7 linked regions of the Homo sapiens genome follow. The protein of the gene in region 1 interacts with the protein of each later gene in a pairwise test. Each region holds a gene or a part of one and is shown on either strand. Other genes may lie near its edges.

Evidence for each region.
Region 2: the proteins of ZBTB42 (region 1) and CIDEC interact in binary tests that used the Homo sapiens proteins (3 or more experiments, as listed by UniProt).
Region 3: the proteins of ZBTB42 (region 1) and SNX18 interact in binary tests that used the Homo sapiens proteins (3 or more experiments, as listed by UniProt).
Region 4: the proteins of ZBTB42 (region 1) and GUCD1 interact in binary tests that used the Homo sapiens proteins (3 or more experiments, as listed by UniProt).
Region 5: the proteins of ZBTB42 (region 1) and CRY2 interact in binary tests that used the Homo sapiens proteins (3 or more experiments, as listed by UniProt).
Region 6: the proteins of ZBTB42 (region 1) and ZBTB16 interact in binary tests that used the Homo sapiens proteins (3 or more experiments, as listed by UniProt).
Region 7: the proteins of ZBTB42 (region 1) and MYLIP interact in binary tests that used the Homo sapiens proteins (3 or more experiments, as listed by UniProt).

The regions. Positions count from the first base shown.
Region 1 is NC_000014.9:104,799,608-104,803,900, reverse strand, and holds the start of ZBTB42 (zinc finger and BTB domain-containing protein 42), read right to left. Parts: upstream 2,801-4,293; 5' UTR 2,704-2,800; coding exon 1,435-2,703; 3' UTR 1-1,434. UniProt on the Homo sapiens protein: Transcriptional repressor. Specifically binds DNA and probably acts by recruiting chromatin remodeling multiprotein complexes.
Region 2 is NC_000003.12:9,873,754-9,877,253, forward strand, and holds part of CIDEC (lipid transferase CIDEC), read right to left. Parts: intron 3,467-3,500; coding exon 3,313-3,466; intron 1-3,312. UniProt on the Homo sapiens protein: Lipid transferase specifically expressed in white adipose tissue, which promotes unilocular lipid droplet formation by mediating lipid droplet fusion. Lipid droplet fusion promotes their enlargement, restricting lipolysis and favoring lipid storage.
Region 3 is NC_000005.10:54,516,573-54,520,558, reverse strand, and holds the start of SNX18 (sorting nexin-18), read right to left. Parts: upstream 2,801-3,986; 5' UTR 2,607-2,800; coding exon 986-2,606; coding exon of another isoform or gene 720-985; exon of another isoform or gene 1-719.
Region 4 is NC_000022.11:24,545,139-24,548,638, forward strand, and holds part of GUCD1 (protein GUCD1), read right to left. Parts: intron 2,936-3,500; coding exon 2,770-2,935; intron 1,868-2,769; coding exon 1,776-1,867; intron 1-1,775.
Region 5 is NC_000011.10:45,867,975-45,871,474, reverse strand, and holds part of CRY2 (cryptochrome-2), read right to left. Parts: intron 1,970-3,500; coding exon 1,658-1,969; intron 1,423-1,657; coding exon 1,271-1,422; intron 1,146-1,270; coding exon 943-1,145; intron 634-942; coding exon 541-633; intron 1-540. UniProt on the Homo sapiens protein: Transcriptional repressor which forms a core component of the circadian clock.
Region 6 is NC_000011.10:114,241,211-114,244,710, reverse strand, and holds part of ZBTB16 (zinc finger and BTB domain-containing protein 16), read right to left. Parts: intron 2,545-3,500; coding exon 2,374-2,544; intron 1-2,373. UniProt on the Homo sapiens protein: Acts as a transcriptional repressor. Transcriptional repression may be mediated through recruitment of histone deacetylases to target promoters. May play a role in myeloid maturation and in the development and/or maintenance of other differentiated tissues.
Region 7 is NC_000006.12:16,135,586-16,139,085, reverse strand, and holds part of MYLIP (E3 ubiquitin-protein ligase MYLIP), read right to left. Parts: intron 1-3,500. UniProt on the Homo sapiens protein: E3 ubiquitin-protein ligase that mediates ubiquitination and subsequent proteasomal degradation of myosin regulatory light chain (MRLC), LDLR, VLDLR and LRP8. Activity depends on E2 enzymes of the UBE2D family.

The sequences.
Region 1 (4,293 bases):
ATGACATCCAGTGTTGTCAGGAGATGAGAAAATAACGTAGACTTGGCTGGACTCTGTTGTCAAGGCCATTCCCAGTCACAGAGGAAACATCCCAGGTGGTCTCCAGGCGTCCAGGTGGCTCTGCACCTGCCGACCCCCAGAGGCCAGTGAGGTTCTGGCAGCAAGATGTGCTCCATTAGGCAGGCAAAGCAGGGCGACCTGAACCAACGACATGTGTGGGGGTTGTGGTCTCCACATTCTATTCATGTTCGAGGAGCGTCAGTCTCCCAAGGCTGCGGATGGAGGCCCCTAGGGTGCTGCGACTCCCACTCCTCACCTGCCCCTAACCCTGCCGCCATGGCCACTTTCACCCATGCCTCGCCGTGGGGAAAGGAAGGCCCGCAAACCCTGCCCCTGGCGGACAGGGCAGCCCTTGCCTCTGCTCAGTCAGTGCACGGAAATGCCCACAGCTCCAGGGAAACCCCCTAGCAGGCAGAGTGACCGTCAAGGTAAGGCCCACGGTGGCCCAGCAGCAGCACACAGCTCAGCGGCCCAGACCCCACCCTGGGGGATGCCCAGAGGCTTCCTAGACCTGCACTCAGGCAGACAAGCATGTGGCTGGGCGGCCACCAGCAGACATCTGGCCGCCTCAGGAGGCTCTTCCTGGCTCTAAAGAGAATCCAGTTCCAAATTCCCACTTTCTCTGCTCAAAGTTACAGTGTGGTCATAATTGCACGCTCTCATGGACCCACGTCCCACCCGAGTGACAATGATGCCACAGCCACTCAGCTTCTAGCTGGCTCTACTCCTGCTGCCTTAGGATCCCTGCTGGGGCTGCACCCCCCCCCCCACCCCGAGACACCAGCTGTGCCCAGATGGCCCCTGCTGGCACTCACTGTGCCCCAGGCCTTCCTGGCAGGGGTTCCTGCTGCCGCTCCCCAGGAGTGTCCTGTTCCCTCCCAGCGCCCCATTGGGACGCACACCAACAACTTTTCTGACATGTGAATAATTCACCTAGCGTGGGGCCAGGCTCATGAAGACCTCCCCAAGCCTGCCAGAGAGGTGGTCAGGAAAGTCCCGGGCCGGGAGATGGATGTGCCATCTCACACGGAGAAACGGGGGCAGAGCCAGGTGCTGGTTGGACACCCCTCAGAACTTGGCTGGAGGGGACGGGAGAGGAAGATAGTGTCACAGCCTAGGCAGGGCACAGCCTGGGGGCCGGAATGAGTTGGAGAGTGAGGGGAAAGGAGAGGCAAGGTGGGAGGAAGGCTGCCCAAGTTACCGAGTCTGAGGCCAAGTTCCAGGAAGAGGCAGCATTCTCTCTGCCAGGAGGGTGGAGCCATCTGGCCCAAGCAGGGACCTCCACCTGGTCAGGCTTCACACCCCATGCTGTGTCCCACCTGGGAGGGCCCATCCCTTCCCTTCCACCCCACCCTCAGGACCCACAGGGATGCATCACACCAGAAGGGACTTGACGAGGCCACAGTGAAACTTGCGGACGTGGCGGTAGAGGTCCCCGGACTGCGTGAAACGGCGCTCACACCACCGGCAGGCATGCGGCTTCTCTCGAGTGTGCACTACGGTGTGCCGGCTCAGGTTGTGGGAGTACTGAAAACTTTTGCCACACTGCACACACGTATAGGGCTTCTCACCCGAGTGTGTCCGCTCGTGCCTCTTCAGTGTGTATGTGCACGAGAAGGTCTTCCCACAGAGCGGGCAGGTGGGTGCCACGCCGTCGGGTGAGAGCCGGGCCCGGGTGCTGTCTCGCTCACGGAAGTGGGCACTGAGGTGCAGCTGCAGCACGTGGGAGCTGGGAAACAGCTTGCTGCACAACGGGCAGATGCAGAGGGGCCCACCAGGCCCCAGCTCGTCCTCACTCGCCAGTCGCCCTGCACCAAGCTCCAGCTCCCGGCTGCCCTCTCCGCTGAGGGGCAGCGGCTGCAAGCCCACCACCAGGCCCTTGGCTGCAGGAACAGGAGGTGGCTTCGGGGGACTGTGGGGGCTCCTAGAGCTGCTGCTCTCCTCCTGTTCGGACAGTGAGTCCCGTTCGTCCTTCACCAGTGGCTGGGCCCCTGGCTGCCTCTGGCTGCAGAGGGGTGTCTGGAGGACGCACGGTGGGTGGACCCGCTCCTGCCTTGGGCCAGACTTCAACGACAGGTCCAGGGCCTGGTCTGACTCTTCTGGGACCTGGCAGGGAGGAGGCCCAGATGCTCGAGGAGGGAGGGCAGCCTTGACCCCAAACGGGGGGAGCTTGGCCTTTCGGGCAGCTGGGCAGAGGTCCGCGGTCCAGACAGGCCAGGGGCACGGTGGCTGAGCAGGTTCTGCCCCAGGGGCAGGGTTCCCCGGGTCCAGACTTCGATCCTTCTCCTGGAGCCTGCCCTTGCAGACCTTGACGATGTCATACATGTGCAGGTAGCTGGCGGCTGCCAGGACGTCCTCCACAGGCAGGCTGCGCAGGTCCAGGCGGCCCTCGTACATGAAGTCCAGTAGGCGGCCGAAGGCGGGCGCCGTGACGATGTCGCCGTTGAGCCGCACCGTGTCGCGACTGCCCGCGGGCCGGTCCCTGTAGAAGAGATGGAAGTAGACGCTGCACGCGGCCAGCACGGCACGGTGGGCCGGGAAGCGCGCGTCGCCCACCAGCACGGTGCAGTCGCATAGGAAGCCCAGCTCGCGCTGCTGTCTCAGGCGGCCCAGCAGCCGTCCGCCGTGCTCAGGGAACTCCATGCCGCCGCCGTCATCACCTGGGCACAAACGGGACGCCCGTCAGCGCGCCTGGAGGCGCCCACGAAGCGCCCTTCCCGGCTGCAGGCAGCGCGGAAAGAGCGGCGCGGGAGTGACGCGCGCAACCTCCCGTCCAGAGCCGCCGCGGGCACCTGCCCCGAGCAGGAAAAACTCGATCGAAAGTAAACAGTAGCAGCTCCGCCGCGGGGGCGGGTCCCGGGACTCAGGCGCAGGAGCCGGAGCCGCGCAAACCTGCGCGCGTCCCCGCCCGGGCGCTCCTGAACTTCACTCCCGGGCGGCCGCCCGCTCGCGGCGTCCCCGACGCCCGGGTGGCTGCGCCGCCACCCGCCCCACGCCTCCGCGCCGCCTCCAGCTGCCGCCCGGCCCACCAGATGCCGCCGCCGCCGGCCCCATTTATGGCAGCGCGGCCGCGGGGAGCGGGGAGAGGGCCGGCGGGCGGGCGGGGCGGGCAGAGCCGGGAGCCCACCCCCAGCGCTCACCTCCGCCGCCCCGAGCTCCTCTCCGGTCGCCGCTCGCGCGCGCGCCCTCCCCAGGGCGGCCCTGGCGCGCGTGGAGCTGCGGGCAGCGCGCCCCGGCGGGGAGGGCGCGGGGACGGCGAGGGCGCCGGGCGGGGCGCGCTCCAACTTGGCTGGCCCAGCGCCGCCCGCCGCTCGCCCCGCCCCAGAGAGAGCGAAACTCGGGGCGGGGGCCGGAGGGGGCGGGCCGAGCGACTTCCCGGAGCGGCGGAACCGCTGAGGTCACCCTCGCCCCCCCTTCCCTGTCCGCCCCACCCGGCCGGGCCCCGCGCGCAGCCAGCAGGGGCGCTGGGGTGTGAGGGGGGTTTAGGGCACTGCGCGGGGGCAGGGGGTCTCTCGCGATACTTGGCGCTTTGGCCTGGGTCCCCCACCTCCCAACCTTTCCCGGCATGGGGTCCTTACTGCGCCAGTCTGCAAAAGGAACCCTTCCGAGGGTCCGCTTGTATCCCAGCCCGCGTTGGGCAGTCACCCGAGGGTAAACCCGGGACCCTGGCCTCCCGCCACCTCGCAGGGCGCCGGCCTTGGGATGGCGTAGGGGTTGCGTGGATTGGGGGTCGTTAATTTTGCAAAGATGACACCTCCTTCTTCCTTGAAAGCCTCTTTTTGAATTTAATTCAGCTGGGACCCTCTTCCAAACATTCAAGCAGGATGTCGATCCTAGAGTCCAGAACGGGGACTTCCACCCTCTCCACAGACCCCAGCCCAGCGTCTATGGGGGACCCAGCGCAGAGAGGCACGGAAAACGGGCACCTCCCAGCAGACATGGTGGCACGGGGGGACAAACGCCATAACAGAGACAGTCGGAAGCCCTCCAGAGCCCAGGGTAGGCAGGAACGTGTTCAAAGAGGAGGAGACTCCGGACAGGGGCTGGCATGGGAGTGGGGGTAGGGAGGAGTGGGGGAAAGTGTTCTAGGGCAAAGAAGCATTGAGAAGATGTGAGGGGGACGCCTGGTTGTGGGAGAGGGAATCGCCAGAGAAGTAGAGAGTGTGTTTGGCGGGGTTAGGGTCCCTCCCAGGCAGATGGAGCCTTTTCCCAGGGGCACAACCTGGGCTGCCC
Region 2 (3,500 bases), on another chromosome or scaffold:
CAAATCACCTGGCAGATTACATGGTCCATAATAAGAATAGGCTCCTCAGGACATTTACAACCACATCATTAGTTATCTTGGAATGATGGCATTATCACGTCACTTTTCTTGCTTGGATTCACTAAGGAACATATCTTGCTACTTAAAACTCTTTCAGTAAGGGCCTGGGATCAGCAACACACCAATAGCAATGAACATATCTAGCTCCCTGGTCTCGGTTTCTGAATACCATTCTCCACTAAAATGAAACAGACCTTAGAAAAAAATGGCCAAGAATTAGGGCAGGGAAAATACAAGATGAGCCTGTAATACCTTGTTGCACCAGAAAGAAAGCATGCAAAGAATGCTGGGGACATGATAAAAAGATGTTGAAGTCTGGGACAACTTGAGCATCAATAAATAATCTGTTGCCATTCATGTATGCTATTAAAATAGAAATACCTGTGTCCCTTTTGAAACAAATAAATAAATAAATAAATAGGCCAGATGCAGTGGCTCATGCCTGTAATCCCAGCACTTTGGGAGGCCGAGGTGGGAGGATCACTTGAGGCCAGGAGTTTGAGACCAGGCTAGGAAACATAGCTAGACCCCCTCTCTATTTAAAAAAAAATTAAAAATTAGGTGTGAGATCGTGTACCTATAGTCCTAGCGAGTCGGGAGGCTGAGGTGGCAGGATCACTTGAACCTAGGAGTTTGAGGCTGCAGTGAGCCATCATCACATCACTGCATTCTAGCCGGGGCAATGGAGCGAGACCCTTTCTCTAAAATAATAATAATAATAATAATAATAATAATAATAATAAGTGAATACAGTGACAGATGCAGAATTCAATGTTTACTTAGTACAAAGTACTGACCTAGAAAATAAATAACAGAGGGGAAAATGTTACATAGAGAAGCTTGACTGTACCTACCACTTTATTCAAATAATCAAAACAGTAAGGTGACAAAAATTGCATATAATTTTGCAGTGACAATCTTTTTAAAATTTTTTTTAAACAGGGTCTCGCTCTGTCACACAGGCTGCAGTGCAGTGGTGCATTCACAGTTCACTGGAGCCTCAAATTCCTAGGCTCAAGTGATCATCCTGCCTCAGCCTCCTGAGTAACTGGGACTACAGGTGCACACCACCATGTCCAGCTAATTCCTGTATTATTTTTGTATAGACGGGGTCTCACCATGTTGCCCAGGCTGGTCTTGAACTCCTGGGCTCAAGGACTCCTCCTGCCTCGGCCTCCCAAAGTGTTAGGATTACAAGCATGAGCCACTATGCCTGGCCTGCAACTTATTTTTATCATATTCCTGCCAAAGATATAAACCTGAATTAAAGAAATGGATAGGGCCAGGTGTGGTGGCTCACACCTGTAATCCCAGCACTTTGGGAGGTCGAGGCAGGCAGATCACGAGGTCAGGAGATTGAGGCCATCCTGGCTAACACGGTGAAACCCCGTCTCTACCAAAAATACAAAAAAAATTAGCTGGGCGCGGTGGCGGGCGCCCGTAGTCCCAGCTACTCAGGAGGCTGAGGCAGGAGAATGGTGGGAAGCCGGGAGGCAGAGCTTGCAGTGAGCCGAGATAGCACCACTGCACTCCAGCGTGGGCGACAAAGCGAGACTCTGTCTCAAAAAAAAAAAAAAAAAGAAAAAAGAAATGCATAGTTCCAAACCAAGGGACAGTAAACAAAAATAGCTGGCTCATAATCTTCAAAATGGTCAAGGCCATGAAAGTCAAGGAAACACTGAAAAACTGTTCCATACTGAAGGAAACTAAAGAGACATACAATTAAATAAACACTTGATCCTGACCTGGATCCTTTCACTATAAAGGATATTATTGGGACAGCTGGCAATGCTTGAGTTTCAGGATTCAATTACAGTAATGTAATACTGTTTCCTGATTGTAATAGTTGTATGATGGCTATCCTTGTTTGTAGAAAGGAGAATATCCTTGTTTGTAGAAAATGCACATTGAAGTATCCAAGAGTAATAGGCAGCAAGTTGGCAACTTACTCTCAAATGATTCAGGCAAAGTTTTGTATTGTATTTGTACTGTGTAACTTTTGTTAGTTTGCAATTGCTTCCTCCAGGGGAAGCCACATATAACAAGGACACTTTGATGCAGGGGGTGCCCAGACCTCAGGGCAAAAAAACAGCACCAAGTCCAGGTTAGAGTATGAACAGGTCCTTTTGATTGAAAGCACAAGAAATGTAGTCTGCGCAGCCAGAAGCCTTACAAAGGAGGGGAAATTGGCTCTCCGGAAGAACAGAACTAATACACAGAAATAGGGGAGGAAACTTAGAATAAAGAGGTTAGCTATGATTGATTTCTGTATGTTAAATAGAGCCTAATAATTGGAAGCCTAATCCAAACATTTGACCTGTACCAGGCACCTGGGATTGCAGATGAGAGGGTCCCACCCCTATAGAGATGATCAGTGAGGACAGGCATGGTGGCTGACGCCTATAATCCCAGCACTTTGGGAGGCAGAGGTGGGTGGATTACCTGAGGTCGGGAGTTTGAGACCAGCCTGGCCAACATGACAAAACCCCATCTTTACTAAAAATACAAAAATTAACTGGGCGTGGTGGTGCATGCCTGTAGTCCCAGCTTCTTGGGAGGCTGAGGCATGAGAATCACTTGAACCTGGGAGGCGGAGACTTCAGTGAGCTGAGATCATGCCACTGCACTACAACTTGGGTGACACAGCAAGACTCCATCTTGGGCTGGGTGTGGTAGCTCACACCTGTAATCCCAACACTTTGGGAGGCCAAGGTGGGTGGATTGCCTGAGCTCAGGAGTTCGAGACCAGCCTGGGCAACACAGTGAAACCCTGTCTCTACTAAAGTACAAAAAATTAGCTGGGTGTGGTGGTGTGTGCCTGTAGTCCCAGCTACTCAGGAGGCTGAGGCAGGAGAATCGCTTGATTCTGGGAGGCAGAGGTTGCAGTGAGCCAAGATCGCGCCATTGCACTCCAGCCTGGATGACAAGAGTGAGACTTCGTCTCAAAAAAAAAAAAAAAAAAAAAAAAAAACTAATGGAAGTGGGAAGCATGAGATTTTCCAGCAAGAAAAATGTGCCCTGAAAATACCACTGACCTACTGATAGTGTAGGATGGTAACGTACTGCCCCCCTCCTGTTACCAAACAGACATCAGTCATTGCTAATTAGTTGGACAGCTCTCCAGGTGGGCATTACCATCTGTAGGCGCTGGTAGGTATCAGAAAGGAAACTGTGCCACCTTCTAAGCCCTGACCTCCATCTCTGCTGAATCCCAGCTCACAGCTGGGCTGTGCAACGCGCAGGTGCTCTCACCTTGAGGAGGAGGTCCTCAAGACTGTAAGCCATGATGCCCTTCCTCACGCTTCGATCCGCCGTGCTTACGCGGCAGGGCCGGGCCCTGGGGGCCTTGGGGCTGGGCTCCGACAGCAGCTGCTGGGTCACCACAGAGGTACGCACTGACACATGCCTGGGGCAGTTGAAGCATCAGGGTGAGCCACCCA
Region 3 (3,986 bases), on another chromosome or scaffold:
GGAAACAGGGACAGTAGGTTTCCCTGCTCAGGAGTAGGTTTCCCTGCCCAGCCGCCCCTACACTGGACTTTCACAGGCAAGACTGCCTCCCTAACTCCCACACCTCCCCATTCTCTCAATCAAGGCATTATATGAGAATGCACATTAGTAAGAAATGTTAAGACAAGCACTACTGCTATATATTTTTTTAATTTGCAAATTCTGGTGCTTTAGCAAAGGTCAGAGACACTAACAACTATTAATAACTCATGAACTCTGATAGTTGGACAGCTAACTCACTGGGATACCAGCAACGCTGCTCTCAGATCCAATACTCAGATTATATTCATTCTATGTAGTTTCCCTAAACAATTTTCCTAAACAACGTTCTCAATTTCAGTACATTAATAGATTTCAAACTCAAAATGAGTACGCTTTTCCTGAAATTACTTCACTTCGTAAAGGTTGCAGGCAAGAATTCTTTGCAGGAATTTCTTAAACTCAGAGAATTGATCTTAATTCCTCTACCAAAGCAGAGATTGAGAGGTGTGGAAGGGTGAAAGCAGATTTCTATTTACAGACATCCGTTCTTCTCCATTATTTCCTCACTTTTTGAAACTCACCACTAAGTGACAGTGCAGTGTTCAAACAGATACCTAACATGGTTTAGGTCCCCTTCTAATTCTACCCTCGTCTCAAGATTACAGATTTGAGCAGCTCATTACTCAACTATTCAAACTCTAAAATGATAGCACTGTCATCAAAGGTACTCTTTGAACCTTCGAGAAAGAGTACTCATTCCCTAATGCAAGATACTCGAGGAGGAAGCTGCCTGTCGAGCAATCCAACTTACACTCTAGGGAAAAGACCCAGGCGTCCACGTCTCTGCTCGCTTCCTCACCTGTAGAATATGATTCTGAAACCCACAGTGGTACTGCTGTCAAAGTCGCCCCTTTCAGCCTGCACAATACACTCCATATCACCTGCTCTAAGGGCCAGGCTTTACCTTTCTGAACGTGGATGATGTCCGGGAAGTTAGCCAGATGCCCCTGATACAGCGCTAATAGGTCCATGACGGGATCCAGGTCCTGCCTGGGCTGCTCCGCGAAGAGCTCGCCAATGGCGTCATAGGCATCTCCGGTGAAGGCGATAGCCTGGTTCAGGCCCACCGAGAAGGCCTGCTGGTCCAGCTCAAAGGCCTGGCTGAGGCCGCGGAAGGACTGGCCCACCTTCTGATACTCCTTTTTGAAGCCGGTCACCTGCTTGCGCGCGAACTCGTTGGCCGTGTGGTTGAGCTGCAGCGCGCTGTCGTCCATCTTCTTGGTGAAGCACTTGAAGCCGTCGATCTTGCTCTCCACCTCCTGCAGGTCAAGGGCAGCGGCGGGGGGCGTGCTAAGGGTCAGGAAGAAGTTGGCGCCCACCATCTCGTCCTTCTCGGCCTTCCTCTTGCCCTGCTTCCAGGCTTTCTCGTCGGTGCTGCTGGGGCACGTCAGGAAGTGCTGGAAGACGTCGCACTGCGCCAGCACTGGGTGGCTGGCCATGTGGTTCATCCACCAGATCAGGCCCTTCCTGCGCTTAGAGATGAAGTCCTCCTCGAAGCGGCCGGTGGCCTGCTTCTCGGGCAGGTGGGGCACGGAGATGACCGGGAACTTCTCCGCCAGGCGCGCGTACAGCCAGTCGAAGTGCTTGTAGCGCCGATGCACCGGCACCTGCGTGTGCGTGGGCACCAGCTTGTAGGAGATGTAGCTCTTCATGCCCTTGAACTTGGTCTGCTTGGTGGGGTCGTCGATGGTGCACTGGAACGGGTAGGGGTTCTCCTGCCACTCGGGGCCATAGGGCCCCAGCACCACGCACAGCTTGTCCCCGTCCTTCACGAAGCCTGACGCCTCCCCCAGCACGAAGGCCTCCCCGCCGGACTTGACGAAGGTGGAGAAGCGATTGAGGTTGCGGCTCACGGTGGCCGAGCTCTTGGGCCCCGACGGGTGGTGCTGCGGGGGGACCGAGCCGCCGCGGGAACCCAGGGACAGGTCGGAGCGCGTGGACAGGCGGTAGCGGCCGGCTGCGCCCACACCCGCCGAAGACGAGCCGTCGAGGTCCGGGTATGCTCCGCTGCCCAGAGCGCCCGGCTCGTCCGCCACCGTGGAGCTGTCGTCCCACTCGTCGTCCCAGTCATCATCGCTGCCTTGGCTGGCCTGGTAGCCGCCGTAGAGCTGCTGAGGCGACGGCTGCAGGGCGCCCCCGCCGTACGGGAAGCCCGCGCCGGGCGGCTGGAAGGTGCTCGGAGGCGGCGCCTGCTGTGGCTGCAGCAGCGCCTGGAAGGCGTCAGGCGGCGGCTTGAAGGAGGCGGGGGGCGCGACAGGCAGGGGCTCGAAGCCCCCGGGGGGCACATTGGCGTAGCGGGCCGGGGCGCCCGGGCCGCCGTCTCCCGCCGGGCCAGGCTCGGGGGCGCGGATCACCTGCACATAGGAGGCCGGGAAGAGGCCGCGGTCGCCGCGGCTGTTGACCCCCTCGAGCCAGCCCTCGATGTCCTGCTCGCTGCACAGGCTCAGCACCTCGTGCTCTCGCAGCGAGATCTCTCCTGGGTTCTCCGACCTGAAGTCGTACAGCGCCCGGGCGCGCAGCGCCATGGTCCCGGCGCCCCGACTGGCGGTCCCGACTCCCGGCGTCCCGAGCCGAGGCCCACCTGAGGGGCCCGCGGTACTGCTCGAGCCCTGGCGCGCGGACTGGAGCCCCGAAGGCGGCAAACCCACGCTGCCCGGACCAGCCGGTCGCGCCCTCCGCGCGGCTCCGCTCGCAGCGCCTCCACTTCGCAGCGCCGACTGCCGCGCTGGGCCGCCGCAGCCGCCGCCGGTCGGGGGCGGGGCCCGCGGCCTCCCACGTCTCCAGCTGCGCTAATCCACGGCCGAGAGCCCCTTGCCAGGCGAGAGCAAGCGATGGCCGAGCCGCCGAGCCCACCGCCCGCGTCGGCTTTGCGGCGGCCACTGCCCTCTAGTGGCCGGTGCCGCGAAGCCGGGCGCCGTAGTGAGCGCGGCTGAAGGAGGTTTCTACTCCGAAGTGAATTATCTGAGATTTCTTTAGGCTTTTAAGTTAAACATTCTCTAGAAAGTAAGTTAGCATTTGCATGCCTGATAAACGTTCCCACTCTGAGCGCTCAGTGAATGCTCCTAGAATGGCAACCCAGTCATGTAATAAAGCATTTTGCAATGCGAATTAGTGATTGCACTAAGAAAACAGGATGCCTCTGCGGAGGAGCTGTTCACCTACAGAGCAGGCTCCCTTCCCTCTTCTGCTCAAGGAGAGGAGATTGGCAAGAACAAAGTAAGGGCCAGGGAAGGTGCTGTGATTGACAAAATTAGAAGCAAAGGATCATGTAGAGAGGGAGGAGCTGGAGAGTTTCCAGTACAATAAATGCTCACACATTTATTACATGCATGTGTCGCCTATCCTCCCATAGATATATGTAGTGCGGTGAATGAGAGCTCAAACTTCGGAGCCAGGCTTCTGAATTTCAATCTGTGTTCTGACACTACCTAGCTGTATGACCTGGAACAAGGCACTTATATCGTACCTACCTCCGGGGGTTGTTGTGGGGATTCCATCATAAAGTAATCCCTATTTTACAGATGAGGAAAGTGAAACAATATCTGGCAGGGTAAGCAGATTTGAAGGGTTTGTTGCTGCTTTTGCTGCTGTTACTGTTATTTGGGGGAAGCAAAATCCCTGGCCTCTTTCACAAAGGGAATAGGGGTACTAAACTAACAATTGCAGGGTACATGCACCAGGAAGCGTCCCAATGTTCACATTGCCACTCCTAGTAAGAGGTCAGTGACCATCCATCCATCTGTTGTCTCTATGTCTCACTATATTTATATTATTTTTAAGATAAATAGAACAAAAATCACTTCCTGAAATAATCAGCTCCAATCTATCGTTGCCTTGTTTCCTATCTTCCTTTCCTTCAGTGTATAATTTGCCCAAAGCTTTTTCTTCTCTTAATCCCCTCTTAT
Region 4 (3,500 bases), on another chromosome or scaffold:
CACCCACTTGGGGCCTTCCTTAGGAGTGGCAGCATCAGTACCATGTGGCCTGACCCAGCTTCAGCCACAGCTGAGTCACGTGGCAGTTTGGATTGCTGCCTTGGCCAAGGAAACATGCCATTTTTCCATTTGGTCTTTGAAACAAAATAGCTGGCTGAGTTCCCAGTGGCAGTGCACAGGAGTGGGATTTCAGCTATAGGGAAAAAGCAGGGGCTTGGCTGGAAGGAAAAACTACAGGCTTCAAGGAATAACAAGCATGGGTTCAGATCATGGCATGGCCAAGATGCTGGGGGTGACCTTGGGTGTCTCTCTCCTCCTCAGTTTCCTCCCCCGAGAAGCAGAGATAGCAACAGCTTTCCCACTCAAGGAGACAGCACCTGTTGAGGGCTGCTAAATAAACATTTGCTGCCTTTCCTTCCAACATGTGCCCATGTGGTCATAGTATGAATGGAGATCCCACCCCACTATATTCTTTTTTTTTTTGAGACAGAGTCTGTCTCTGTTGCCCAGGCTGGAGTGCAGTGGCGCGATCTCGGCTCACTGCAAGCTCCGCCTCCTGGGTTCATGCCATTCTCCTGCCTCAGCCTCCCGAGTAGCTGGGACTACAGGCACCCGCCACTGCGCCCAGCTAATTTTTTGTATTTTTAGTAGAGACGGGGTTTCACCATGATCTCGATCTCCTAACCTCGTGATCCGCCCGCCTCGGCCTCCCAAAGTGCTGGGATTACAAGCGTGAGCCACCGTGCCCGGCCTGTTTTGTTGATTTTTAAAGCCCGGGGCAGTACTCTTGGAAAATGTCCCACATCCTGGATTTGCCTTTCTGTTTCCTTGAGGGCAGATTCAGACAGAGTCTCGCTCTGTCCCCCAGGCCGGAGTGCAGTGGCACTATCTCGGCTCACTGCAAGCTCCGCCTCCTGGGTTCAGGCCATTCTCCTGCCTCAGCCTCCCGAGTAGCTGGGACTACAGGCGCCTGCCACCACGCCCGACTAATTTTTTGTATTTTTAGTAGAGACAAGGTTTCACCGTGTTAGCCAGGATGGTCTCGATCTCCTGACCTCGTGATCCGCCCACCTCAGCCTCCCAAAGTGCTGGGATTACAGGCGTGAGCCACCGCGCCCGGCCCCCAAACCCCCATTTTCTAAATCACCTATCATGTGATTATACTACGTCAATAATGAAAATATAAATCCGCAAAGAAAGGGAAAATCTGAGAAGAGCCTGTCCAGGACCTAGAGGCAGCAGGTCTGAGCCCCACTCCCACGTAGCCCAGAAAAGAATGTGACCCACATCTGGGCAAACTGCACCCAGAGTCTTCCTGAATCCAGCCCCAATGCATACAGATGAGAAGAGGAGGCCCTTGTAAGGTCACAGCAGCCCTTACACACTGGGTCCTCCCTGTTCCCCATCCCTTGTCAATCACTGCACCAGCACATTCCTCTTAGGCCATCGCCCTTTCATTAGGGGCCTTGTGTTCTGTCCCATGCTGTCTTTCTGCAAGTAGCCCAAGGGCTGGGTGCAATCTCTCTCACTCACCTATCCCTCCAGCACCTGCTCAGGATCCACCCCTGGTCAGAGCCTGGGTCATGTAGCCCCAGTGAGCTCCATAAACCAAGGCTCAAGGGGGCAAGTCAGTGCCCACAGCCACCCGGGTAGCCAGTTCTGCCTGGCTCCAGAGTCCTAGCCTTTCCTGAACACCATCCCGAGGCCTCCCCACTGCAGATCTGTGGGTGAGCAGGCATGAGAGGAAGGGCAGGTAGGAAAGTTGGGGGGCTCACCATTTCTCCACCAGCACCTTGCAGGCCTTTGCTTGTGCAAACAGCTGATTCACCCGGGTCTCTTCTGTGTCAAAGTGCTTCCTGTAGAAGGACTGAACAGAGAAGAGGGGGATGGAGTGGCCACCACCCAGGCTGCCTTCACTCCATTTAGATGAAGGAAATAAAGAGCGTGTTACAGAGGCAGAGACAGCAGGAGGGCAGAGGAGCCCCACCTGCCAGGGCAGACGGTACATGCAGCAAGCCAGATCAGAAAGCTGTCTGTCCTAAGCAGGAGCAGGGAAGCAGGACCACACAGAGGCATGAGGATGATGCTTGAGAGAGGGGTGGGCAGCTGGGCTCAGGTCAGCTCTCTGGGGAGGATCGATCACCCTTGGGCTTGTACACTCTGGCAGGCATGAGCAGGAGCCCGTAGCGAATAAGCAAGGGGGATGAGGCTGAACCACCTGGGACAGCTCAGCTACAGCTTGGCTTAGCTAGGTGTCGTCCACGGAACACACTTTGCTGGCATGGCTATGTTGGCATTATTTTTCAAAAGGCAAAAAAAAGAAAAGATGGTATTTTGGTTTTCTTCTAGACTACCAATTATATAGCTTAAAAGCTGGCTCTCCTGGTGAAAAGTAAAAAAATGTGCAAATGATGGCCGGATGAGGTCAGTGATGTTCTCAGAGGCCCTGGGCCTGCCTTGTGCTGAGGACAGTAGGAAAGAACGTAGGAAGTGGCCTCTGCACATTCTGAGGGCTGTAGAAGGCAGGTGGACAGGAGCCAGGACTCAGTACTCAGATCCTCTGGGCAGGCCCGACTGCAAGGGCACCTGCTCTGACTGGCTCCCAAATCCTGCCTATAGCCTCTCTGCTGCTGCTCCCTGGTCTCTGCACACCTGGGTATCTACCTGGGTGTCTAGCCCTTGACTGTTCCCTCTTCCAACTACTGGAACCAGGTGGCCTTATACCTCTGTGTGGCCCCACATGGGAAGGCCTGGTGGCTGGTCGCTCACCTGGTTCTTGTAGCCCTTGTCGACACCCAGGGTCTGGGTACAGAAGCGGTGCCTCACGCCAAAGTGGTGCATCAGGTAGGCCAGGTCGATGGTCCAGATGCTCCTGGTCAGCTGCAGCTTCTGCAGGGCTCTCTCAAACTCACTGTCGTCCAGCTGGCCCAGGTACCTGCAGGTAGACGAGCTGGGGAGCTCAGCTTGGTCTTGAGGGTCAACTGGTCTGAGTCACCCTCCACCCACTGGCCCAAGAGCCCCGTCACAGGTCCCATTCCCCAGAAGTCTCCCTCCTTCATCATGAGACCCTAGGTCCTGCCCACACACTGCCCAGGCTGCTTGGGGCACCGTCCTGGCTCCAGAGTTGCAGGCCTGGACTCTGCTTCTCAAATCTATTGTGTCTTGTGGGCTGTGACCTTGAGCAAGTCATTGTCTTCTCTGGCCTCTTTAGCTTCATCTCTAAAATAAGGTCCCTGATCACATCAGTGGTTTTCAAAGTTTTAGGCAAAGAACGCTTTTGTTGAATTTTCTCTTGCTGAGATTCCCAGGATGTAAAACAGATGAAGATGCAGCTGCCCTGTGGTTCCAGGAAGCCAAATGAAAAACTCTTGTACAAGGTGACGGCTACAGTCCCTCTTGGCTCTCACTGTCCAGGTTTCTGTGATATTCACACAGCCTCAGCTTAACGGTCAGCACCCCATTCTCCCAGGAGCCAGAAACTGGGGAGTGGAGGGCCTCCT
Region 5 (3,500 bases), on another chromosome or scaffold:
CTGCCCTACTGACCATCCTTCAGTGCACTGAAGGCTGAATCCTAGTCCTCGTCTCGGACATCAGGCCTGCCACATGCTGCTCATGCTGTATCTTGTCCTCATCTCATTCCAGCTCCTCACTGGGACATGCCGCTACACTGACCTCCCTTCGGTTCCTTGAATGGACTAAGCTCGGTACTGTTTGTGAGCTTTTTCTTGCTACTCCCTTTGTCTGGAATGTTATTTTCTCAGTGTGTGGCAGGGCTGGCTCCTGCTCATGACGTGGGTCTCTGCTTAACAGAGGTGTTCCCTGACTGCTCCAATCTCAAGTGACACAGAAGAAATCCTTCTTTCCCAGTCCCTCTGTCAAGATACTCAACTTTCTTTTCCTCCAAAGCACTTGTTATCTGAAATGATCCAACTTGGTTTCTTTACTATCTGACTGCCCCAGGTGGAATATAAGCTCCACTGGGCAAGGCCTCCTTCTGGCCTCAGTCCTGAATGACTGAAGTGGTGGCACAGGCCACAGGAGGCCACAGGAGGTTGGTTGCTGCTGCTCACCTGCACTGCTCATGCTGCCAGCCTGGCTCGAGCTGGGCTCTGCCACAGGGTGACTGAGGTCTTCCACACAGGAAGGGACAGATGCCAGTAGACCTGGGAGAGAGGCGAGGAGTAATCAGAGTGCCGTCTCGCAGGATTGCAGAGGGCTACAGGGCAGGATGAAGCAAGTGGGGGTGGGGAGGGTAGGAGCAAGACACTGAGGTTCCATTTCCTCCCACAGCCCCACAACTACTCAGGAAGGCCCAGTTCATCCCAGCCTGCAGTGTCCCATACCCAGCGAAGGTGTCAACCTGAAAGACAGCACTCAGTCTCCCTTTGCAAGTATCTGGACATCCCCATCTGGCCCCCTGAGCCTGTAGGTGCTGTCCTTCCCTTCAGTGAGCTAGGTGTTTGTCTCCTTACAGAGTCCCCGGTAGCGCGAAAGCTGCTGGTAAATCTGCTTCATTCGTTCAATGTTAAGCCGGCTGGTCTCGGCATGGTTGACGATGGGCCGTGGGTAGTCCACACCAATGATGCACTTGGCTGCCTTCTGAATTGACTCTGGGGCATTCCAGGGCTCATAGATGTATCGAGAGGGGAACGCTTTCAATTTGGGCAGGTATCGCCTGAAATAAGATACACCAGATGACCCATCAGCATACCCAGACCCTCCTTCAAAAGGCCCAGGGTATCCCATCCTAGTAGGAGGCCACAGTGGTCAGAGGCCAGAGAGCCTGGTCTGTATCCTCACCTGATGTAGTCCCCACTGGGGTCCGTGCGACGGCCAAAGCCCACAGGGCAGTAGCAGTGGAAGAACTGCTGGAAGAAAGCACTGCAGGACAGCCACATCCAGCTGCCTGCGTTCACGCTGAAATCTGCATCCAGGAGCAGCTCATCAAATACCTAGATAGGGGAGGGGATGATCAGCCTCCTTGGGGACATGCAGCCATGTTTTTTCCCAAGTCACCACAGTGCCCCCAGGAGCCAAAACCCTTCCATTGAAGGCAAGCCACAGAGGATCTGGAGGGGATCTCCTGGACCCAGAAATCCCACCTCATCCCTCAGCCCAGAAGGGGGCTGCCCTTTGACGGGCCTGACCAGAGGGTACAGGCCAGCTTTTCGTTGAGAGAGCACTCACCCGGACCCCGCTCTCCCAGCTGACCCAGAGGTCCCCGCGGGTCAGGAAGCAGGCCACGGCATGCCGGGCCAGGTGGTGGATCCAGCCCTCCTGCCTCAGTTGGGTCATGATGGCATCAATCCAAGGGAAGCCTGTCTTGCCCTCAGCCCACTTGGCCAGGGCCTCAGGATTGCGGTCCCAGGGGATCTGGATGCAGATGGGGTTCCCCTCCATGCGGTCAAACCTGGGGTTGTTGGTAGCTGCCGTGTAGAAGAACTCTCGCCATAGGAGTTGCCCAAATAGGGAGAGGGGAGGTGTGCTGTTCCGCTTCACCTGAGAGGTAGGGGTGGCACATGGATACAAACACTCGCCCAGCTCTTAGCATGGTGCCTCTCAGGTCTCTTCTACAAAGGAATCTGGGCCCTCCAAAGACCTAGTGGCTCAGCTGCCAGATGTGGAGGGACTATCCCCTAGAAGTGGCACAGCATGCCTGCATGTGAAACACCCAGGCCCTGCCTGCACTGTGCCACTGCTCTGAGCAAGAAGAAAGCTACAGAGGGCCAGGCAGTGGGAAGGGGCCTCACCACAGGACTCTGCACTAGGATTCAAACTTCCCAAGACTGGTCATGTTCCTTGTCCTCAAGAGTTCCCTGTTTGGCTCCACCTTCTAGAAAGTCAAAAGGAATTTTCCTATCAGCACACATGAAAAATGCTCAGTCTAGATTTTGGTTGAATAAATTATACACACAGCCTGGATCTGGGGCCATAAGGTAATTAAGAAATCAGACCTCCAAGCAAATAATGACTTCCCTAAAGTCACAAGATTACTCACCAAACTGGCAAAGCTATCCCATGCCACAAAATCTCAATAATGGCAAGGATGAGGAGATAACATTTAAAAACCTAGATACAGCCAGGTGTGGTGGCTAGCATCTGTCACTTTGAGAGGCTGAGGTGGGTGGATGGCCTGAGCCCAGGAGTTTGAGATCAGCCTGGGCAACATGGAAAAACCCAGTTTCTACAAAAAAATACAAAAAATTAGCCAGGTGTGGTGGCATGCACCTATAGTCCCAACTGCTGGGGAGGCTGAGATAGGAGGATCACCTGAGCCTGAAAGGTTGTGGCTGCAGTGAGCTGTGATCATACCACTGTACTCCAGCCTGGGTGACAGAATGAGATCCTGTCTCAAAAACAAACAAAAAAACAAATGTAGACACAACGGCTAGGCATGGTGGCTCACGGCTGTAATCCCAGCACTGTGGGAGGCCAAGGCAGGACAATTGCTTGTGCCCAGGAGTTCGAGACCAGCCTGGGCAACATAGCAAGACCCTATCTCTACAAAGAATGTAAAAAATTAGCTCTACTTGAGAGGCTGAGGCAGAGGGATTGCTTGAGCCCAGGAGTCTGAGGTTTCAGTGAGCTGTGATCAGGCCACACTACACTCTAGCCTGGGTAACACAGCTAGACTTTGTCTCTTAAATAAACAACAGAAACAAAAAACATAGGCACAAGATGAGGTGATCCCTCTGAATGCTGACTGTGTTGCCCTCTCTCCTTCTGGGGACAGTTAACACAGGCTTATTTGCTTCTTGTCTGTATAGCACAGCCCTGTGTGCAGCCCCTCCACACCACTCCCTCCATCACTGATGGGCAACTGCTGTTCCTGGACTCCCCTTTTGAATGCTGTGGACACAGCTCCAGAGCGGGCAGCTATGCTCTTCCACTTCAGACTGGCTCCAGCCTCACCCTCTCCATGCCTCTCACCCTGGGGACCTCGCCCCTGTCCACCAGCTGCCAGAGGATATGCCACCTCTAGGGTCACACCTGAGGCCTGCTTTTCTGCCTGTCCTTCTGCTCTACATGA
Region 6 (3,500 bases), on another chromosome or scaffold:
AATAGGAAATTCTTGAGTCTGCCCAGGGAAAAGAATAAAAAGAACTTAGAAGGAAAAACAAACAACAACAAAAAAAAAAGAAAGAAAAAGTCACCAACACACACGTATCCCCATCCCGATTTGGAAGCACGGTGTGCACCTGGCGTGAAATCTTCACCCTGAGAGCTGATTGTGTCAGTGTGGCCATAATGTACACAAAACTGGCTGCAGAACTCAAAATCCAATTTGTGGTATGTTGATTAACTCTGTAGCCTCTTTAATGAGCTTGACATTAAGTGCAGGACAAACGAGACTAATTAGAGCCCCCTCCAGCCTGCCCAGTGCACCTGTGACCCCGCCCCCCCCAATCTGTCCTTACTTGGTGCTTTCTCTGGCACTGGCCAAGCCCAGTGTCTGTCGTCCTCCCCACCCCAGCCCCATCCTGCTGGCTCCTCAGGCCCCTCCCTTCCAGCCCCTCCCTTCAGCACAGCTGAGAGTTTATTATATGATGAGCCGTGTGAATCAGGGATCCATCAATGCCAAGAGCACGGCTGGACTAACCTACCAAACACAGCTGCTGATGCTAAACACCCGGCCCCAGCAGCAAATGGGCCAAGAACAACGGAATATTAATGAGGCATTGTGTGTGGGGTGTGCACAGCCTGTATATGGCTTGTGTGCGCAGTGCCTCGCTGGTGTGAAAATTGATGGGTGTTTCTCTGTGTGTGCATAGGCAGCACACATGCTCCGTGTTTCCTAGAATAAGCAAGGGCTTCTCCCTAACTCTGGAAACAGCCCCTCCCCGTGGATCTGAGCCATGACTGACACAAGAGCATGTGACATTTTCATATCTGAGCTCTGAGAAGGTGGCATGGTCAGAGCAGGGCACATCCTGGGTGGATTTAGCAGGACTGAGATCATTCAAGTCACATGAAGCCAACTGATTGGACCCAGTGGCATGCTCAGAAGTGGCTGAAAGGTATCTAGCCATCTTTCATAAGACCGAATGAACCTGGGGAACTGTTGAGGGAGGCGTTCATAGGAAGGTGCATATAGCTGCAGGGGAAATGCTTACGCAATCGCTGTAGAGAAAGTCCTTGTCAACATCCCACTCTCCTGGGCCCTTTTTATTGAGCCCACCCCTCTGGGCCCTACCTCCGTCCTGTCCCAGAAATTTTAAGTAGTTCTGTGCAAATCTGGTGATGCTAAGACAATGTGCTCCCCTGAACAAAATGGCATCCAGAAGTGACAGCCAGGAAGGCTCCTTAATGAGGATACCTGCTGCTGGCTGGCCAGGCCAGCTCAGTCCATGAGAAGTAAAGCTCTTCCCTTATTTAGCAGAGCCTGCCACCCATGCAAGACCTGGTCTGCATACTCAATCTCTGAGCTGTGACAAGACTCTCAAAATGAGGAGAGGGCCTACTGTTCCTTTACGTGGCATGCAGAGGTTTTTACAAGTATACGCTCTGTTATATACCCAGATAGAGACCTGACCCCAACCCTCCCTACAAACACAGCACACAAAGGCAGACTCAGAAATGGGCATTCCTTTAACCAGGTAGTTTCAGCAGAGCCCCAGTTTTGTCATAGAGAAAATAAGGAATTTAAGCCATCCACTCCCCTGTTAGGGAAAACTGGGAGCTGCTGCAGGAAAGCAAATGCCTCTTGGCCATCAGGGACCAAGTGTCCCCATCCCTCAAGCCCTAGAGGCTGGTGGCAGGGAATGGCCAGCCCCTCAGCACCTGGCCCAGCCTCCTTACCTTGTACCCCCTCCCTTGTCCCATCACCTGGAACTGGCTGAGCAGTGATATTTCATTGCTCATCGTTTAAATGCCCTCCTTGTCTTCCCTAAACAGGGTTAAGGTCCAAGTACAGGCCTTTGTTACTGTGGGGAAAGTAGGATCACTGCTTCAACTTGCCCTCAGAAGCCCGAAGCTGACTTCAGAAATGTGTATGGATAGAGCGGCGGGGCATCAAGAGTGGTGGGAGGCAGGGCAGACAATGTTAAGAGACCCAGCAGGTCAGTTTTTCTCAAAATTCATTTTGGGTCTACCTACATGAGAATCCCTTGGGAATACATATTAATAATGCTGAATCTGGGACCCCACCCTGGACCCATGGAATAAAAGGTTCTGAGAGTGGGACCCAAGAGCCTGCCTTTTTAATGAGCATCCTGTGTTGAACACGGAAAGACTTTGAACCGACGGTCCACAGGAGGGGACTGGGAGAACTGTCCACATTTACCTGCACGACGGGCAGCCTCTGCACGTCCAAGCCTTGAGCAGAAGGACTGAAGGCTGACTCAGCCCACCACCTCCACTTTACGTCCTTGGAGGTAAATATAGACGCTGGCTCCCAGAGACCCAGATCCACCCATCAGCTGGACTGACCTACCTGTATGTGAGCGCAGGTGGCGTTTGAGAGCCGTGTGGCTGGGGAAGGTGCGGTTGCACTCACTGCAGATGTAGCTGCGCACGCCCGCGTGGACCTCCATGTGCTGCTGCAGTGCGCTCTGCGCCTGGAAGCGCTTCCCACACAGCAGACAGAAGACGGCCATGTCAGTGCCTGTGGGAGACAGGAGAGGGGGTGCCTCAGAAAGGTGGGAATACAAGGTGCATTCTTTACCCATCTGGAGTGAGAGCCAGTGTCGGGACTCACACCTCCAAATCCCCATGCTCAGGGGCAAATCCAGAGTGGGCCCAGGCTATGCAACACTGAGCACCCAGTATGTGGCCCCAGTGATGGGCAAAATCGACGTCGTTCCCGAGCTCTGGAAGCTAAAGCTAAAGGATAGACATTGATCAAATACATCGCAGCAGCAAGGGTAGTGGGCAACTGTGTCGGGTGGTATGTAAAAGGCGGCAAGGTACTAAGACAGCATATACCAGATGGACTTCACAGAGTACAGGGCAAAAAGTGGGGGAGGCAAGGTAGACCCTGCGAGAAAAAACAATAACAAAGATACTATGGGCCAGCCATTGTTCTAACATAACTAATATAAATCCAAAACTCAAAAAGCTAGCCTCTGTTATCCTCATCCCTTAGACAAGGAGACTGAGGCACAGAGAGATTAAGTACTTTGGCCAAAATCCCACAGAGCAGTGGTCCCCAACATTTTTGGCACAAGGGACTGGTTTCATGGAAGGCAATTTTTCCACGTATGGTTGGGGGATGGCTTTGGGATGATTCAAGCACATTACATTTATCATTAGACTCTCATAAGGAGTGTGCAGCCTGGATCCCTTGAATGCACAGTTCCCAATAGGGTTCATGCTCCTGTGAGAATCTAATGTCGCCACTAATATGACAGGAGGCGGAGCTCAGTTTCACTCGCTCGCCTCCTGCTGTGCAGCCCAGCTCCTCACAGACCATGGCCCGGGGGTTGGGGACTCCTGCCATAGAGTTCGTAAGTGGCAGGGCTGGGGTTCACACTCACACACCCTAGATTTTAATGCTTTCCCAAGACTAGCTACAGATCCTGTTTTGTTTTTTTTTTTTAACTACTTCTCCACTCACTAAAG
Region 7 (3,500 bases), on another chromosome or scaffold:
TATTAGATAGTAAGAAGAGTTTTGAATCAATTCCGTGTCTTTTTGCAACCTATCCATGCCTACACTTCCGGAGAGACAGTGGCCAAAATCAAAGGCAAAGAAGCAGTAACAGAATGTAAACAGGTGGCAGGCAGCCTGAGAGCACCACTGATCCTTCTCAGCATATGGGCCAGAATTTAAGAAAAGATCTAGCAAGGGCGATGATTGACCTTTTCGACATACTCCACATTCTAGCCTGGAGTGCAGAGGATGCCTGGTAAGCATGAAAAATCCTTCTCCTTACTGTCAACATCAGCTTTCTGATAGTCCCTTCCTGCATTTTGCAGTTTCATGGCTATAAAGCAACCTTTTCATTTCAAGCCAATAAATATTTGTCTTGCACCGCCTCTGTGCCCAGCCCTAAGCTGGGGTTTTAGGGTAAACATGTCTGAGAGTTCCTTTTTAGATGGACTTACAGCCTTTTACAATAAAGGGACATATCCCATCAAAATAACTCCAGCCACAATCTAGCTTTTGGGTGACAAGTTTATGCTCTCCAGGAGAACAGTACAACAGAGTACTAGTAGCAAAGATCAGCACTCTAATAGGCTCTTTCCAAGACAGAGGATAGCAGAGCTCAGAGACATGTTTCCAACAAGAACTTCAGTGATGGCTCAATATTTATGGGTGGTTTTGAATCAAGTATTTTCTCTTAGTATTTTCCCCTCAAACCATCTGGATTGTAACTATCTGGCTCCTGGGTTTTGCCCCCTCCTTTTTTTTTTTGTAAAGTAGGCAAAATGTTACCAATAATATCAAAACAAGCAGATGTGGTCAAATAAGTTATGCCTGCAGTGAATGCTTTTGCACTAAAGATCAAAAGTAGATGACATATTCAATTCAATAGAGGCTACATCCTAGAATCACAAACAGAAAGAAAGCCTTTGGAAAAAAACTGTTTTCTCTGTCTTAAGGAAATGTCCATGAATACATCCTATGAGCATAAATAAGCTCAAACTGCACCTTTTAAACATTCTTCGGGTTATACCTTCTAATTCATGACTCTTCTTTAAGTTTTACCCAGTTACTAAGAAAACTGATATTTTCAATATATGGATCACATTTTGGGGCCCAAGGCGTAACATTCTGGCTAAACTCATGTCCTGGCATCGTGGGCACAGATGAATTAACATTTACTGAGCATTATAGATTTTTTTTTTAATGGAGTGAATATAAGGATATGCCAAATTTTAATTTTAAAAATGAATCACATATTCTTACTATATTTTTCTTTCAAAGTACTTCAAATTTTCTCTCTTTTAAAAATTAATTCCTTCTTACAATGTTAAGGAATGAAGTTAGATCATTTATCTTTTAAGAGTTGTAATCAGAGAACTTTCCTCTAAACACAGGCTTGTCTCATAAAGCAATTATCTAGGAATCAAAGCAGAACTTCCTGCAAACCAATTGGAAGTTGTTCATCTGCTCATCATAGAGGGTTCCTCTCAGTTACTGCCCTCCAGTTACCTCACCAGTTACACCATTTTTAAGAGCTTTTAATGACAAATGTAAAATAACTATATCCAGATTCATTATTGAACTCAAAATTTAAGAACTAACCTACATCTTTAAAACAGCTAAGCAGCTATTTTTTTCAAATTCTCAATTACCAATAATTGAATTGTATTTCTCCTGGAGAGCCATGACTGACTCTAGCCATAGTGAGTAATGGCTGGTTCTGCTCTCACCTTGTCAGAACCCACGGTGATCATCAGCCAGCCTGCCTCAGTCCAATGAGTCACTTAACCACAGTTTATTTTAAAACAAACTTTGACTGCCAAGTTATATTTAAAAGCTATCAAATCACAACAGAATTGCTATGAGAGTTTTCTGTTTTGTATCTTTAATTTCAGTAAAACACAAATCAGTTCAAGATGGATCACGGGTCTAAATGTAAAAGCTAAAACCGTAACGCTTTAGAAACAAAACTTAAGAGTATCTTCATGACTTCCAGGTAGCAAAGGTTTCTCAGGACATAGCAAAAACCACAAAAGAAGAAAGTGGATAAATTAGGCTTCACCAAAATTAAAAACTTCTACTCATAAAAGGCATCAGAAAAACAGGTAAGCCACAGGAGGAAATACATTTACAAAACATGTATCTGACAAAGGACTGGTATCTAGGGTACATGAAGAATTTGTACAACTCAAAAATAAAAGCAAACAACAAAAATGAGTAAATGACTTGGACACTTTGAAAAAGATACATGAAAGGCCAATAAACACATGAACAAGTGTTTAATATGAATTGTCAGAGAAATGCAAATTAAAACCACAACACTCTACCACTACACACCCACCAGAAAGCTGGCAGGGATGTGGAGGAACTAGACTCTTACATTCTTGCTGGGAGTACAGAATAGCACAGTTGCCAAATAGCTTTGGGAAAAGGTCCGGCAGTTAGTTATAAAATGAAATGATTACTTACTCCATGACCCAGCTATTCCACTCTTAGGTATTTATTTATTCAAGAGAAATGAAAATATGTGTCTACAAAAAAAAGGTACATACTAGAATGTTTATGGCAGCTTTATTCATAATAGCTGGAAAACAGGTGTTCATTATTAGGAGTACGGATAAACAAACACTAGATTCATTCAATGGAATACTATCCAGCAATATAAAAGAACCAACCACTGATATATAGGACAATATGGATGGATCTCAAAAAATCTGTGATGAACAAAAGAAGCCAGATATCAAAGAGTGCATACCACAAGATTCCATATAGATAAGGCCGCACAGGCATAGCTCATCTCTGGTAGAAGAACACATGACAGAGGTGTGGTGTGCGGTGGGTGGGGGTGGGAAAGAAGGGGAGGGGTTGACTGCAGAAGGGCTTCAGGGAACTTTCTGGAGTGATGATAATGTTCTAAATTTTGATAGCAGTTTTATTTAAACAAGCACAGCTGTTTGTCAAAAATCATTAAATGGTATAATTAGGATTTATGTAAATTTTACATCAAAAGAAAAAACTGCAAACATTGAGTTCTAGTTAATGTTATGCATGCTGAAGTATTTACGGGGAAACATACTTATATACAACTTATTTTGAAATGCATCTAAAAATAAGACAGATTGATGGGTGGATAGAGGACTGATAAATGGATGAATATGTAATAAAGCATGTAGAGTAAACTATTAATATTAGAATTTAGTATATATAGTATATACTTAGTATACATACTATAGAGTAGAATATATAGTGTACATGTACACTATATAGAATATATACTGTATATATACACTATATAGAATATATAGCATACATATATATATATATATATATATAGATATATGTATACACACACATATAATGTGTGTATATATACATAGGTGTTCCCTGTAAAAAATCTCCAATTTTCCTGTCTGTTTGAAAATTTTCATAAGTTAAGGAAGTAATACTAGTAAAAATCCCTTAGGGTCAAGGATTCAAGTAACTAGCCATATCTAACGTGAACC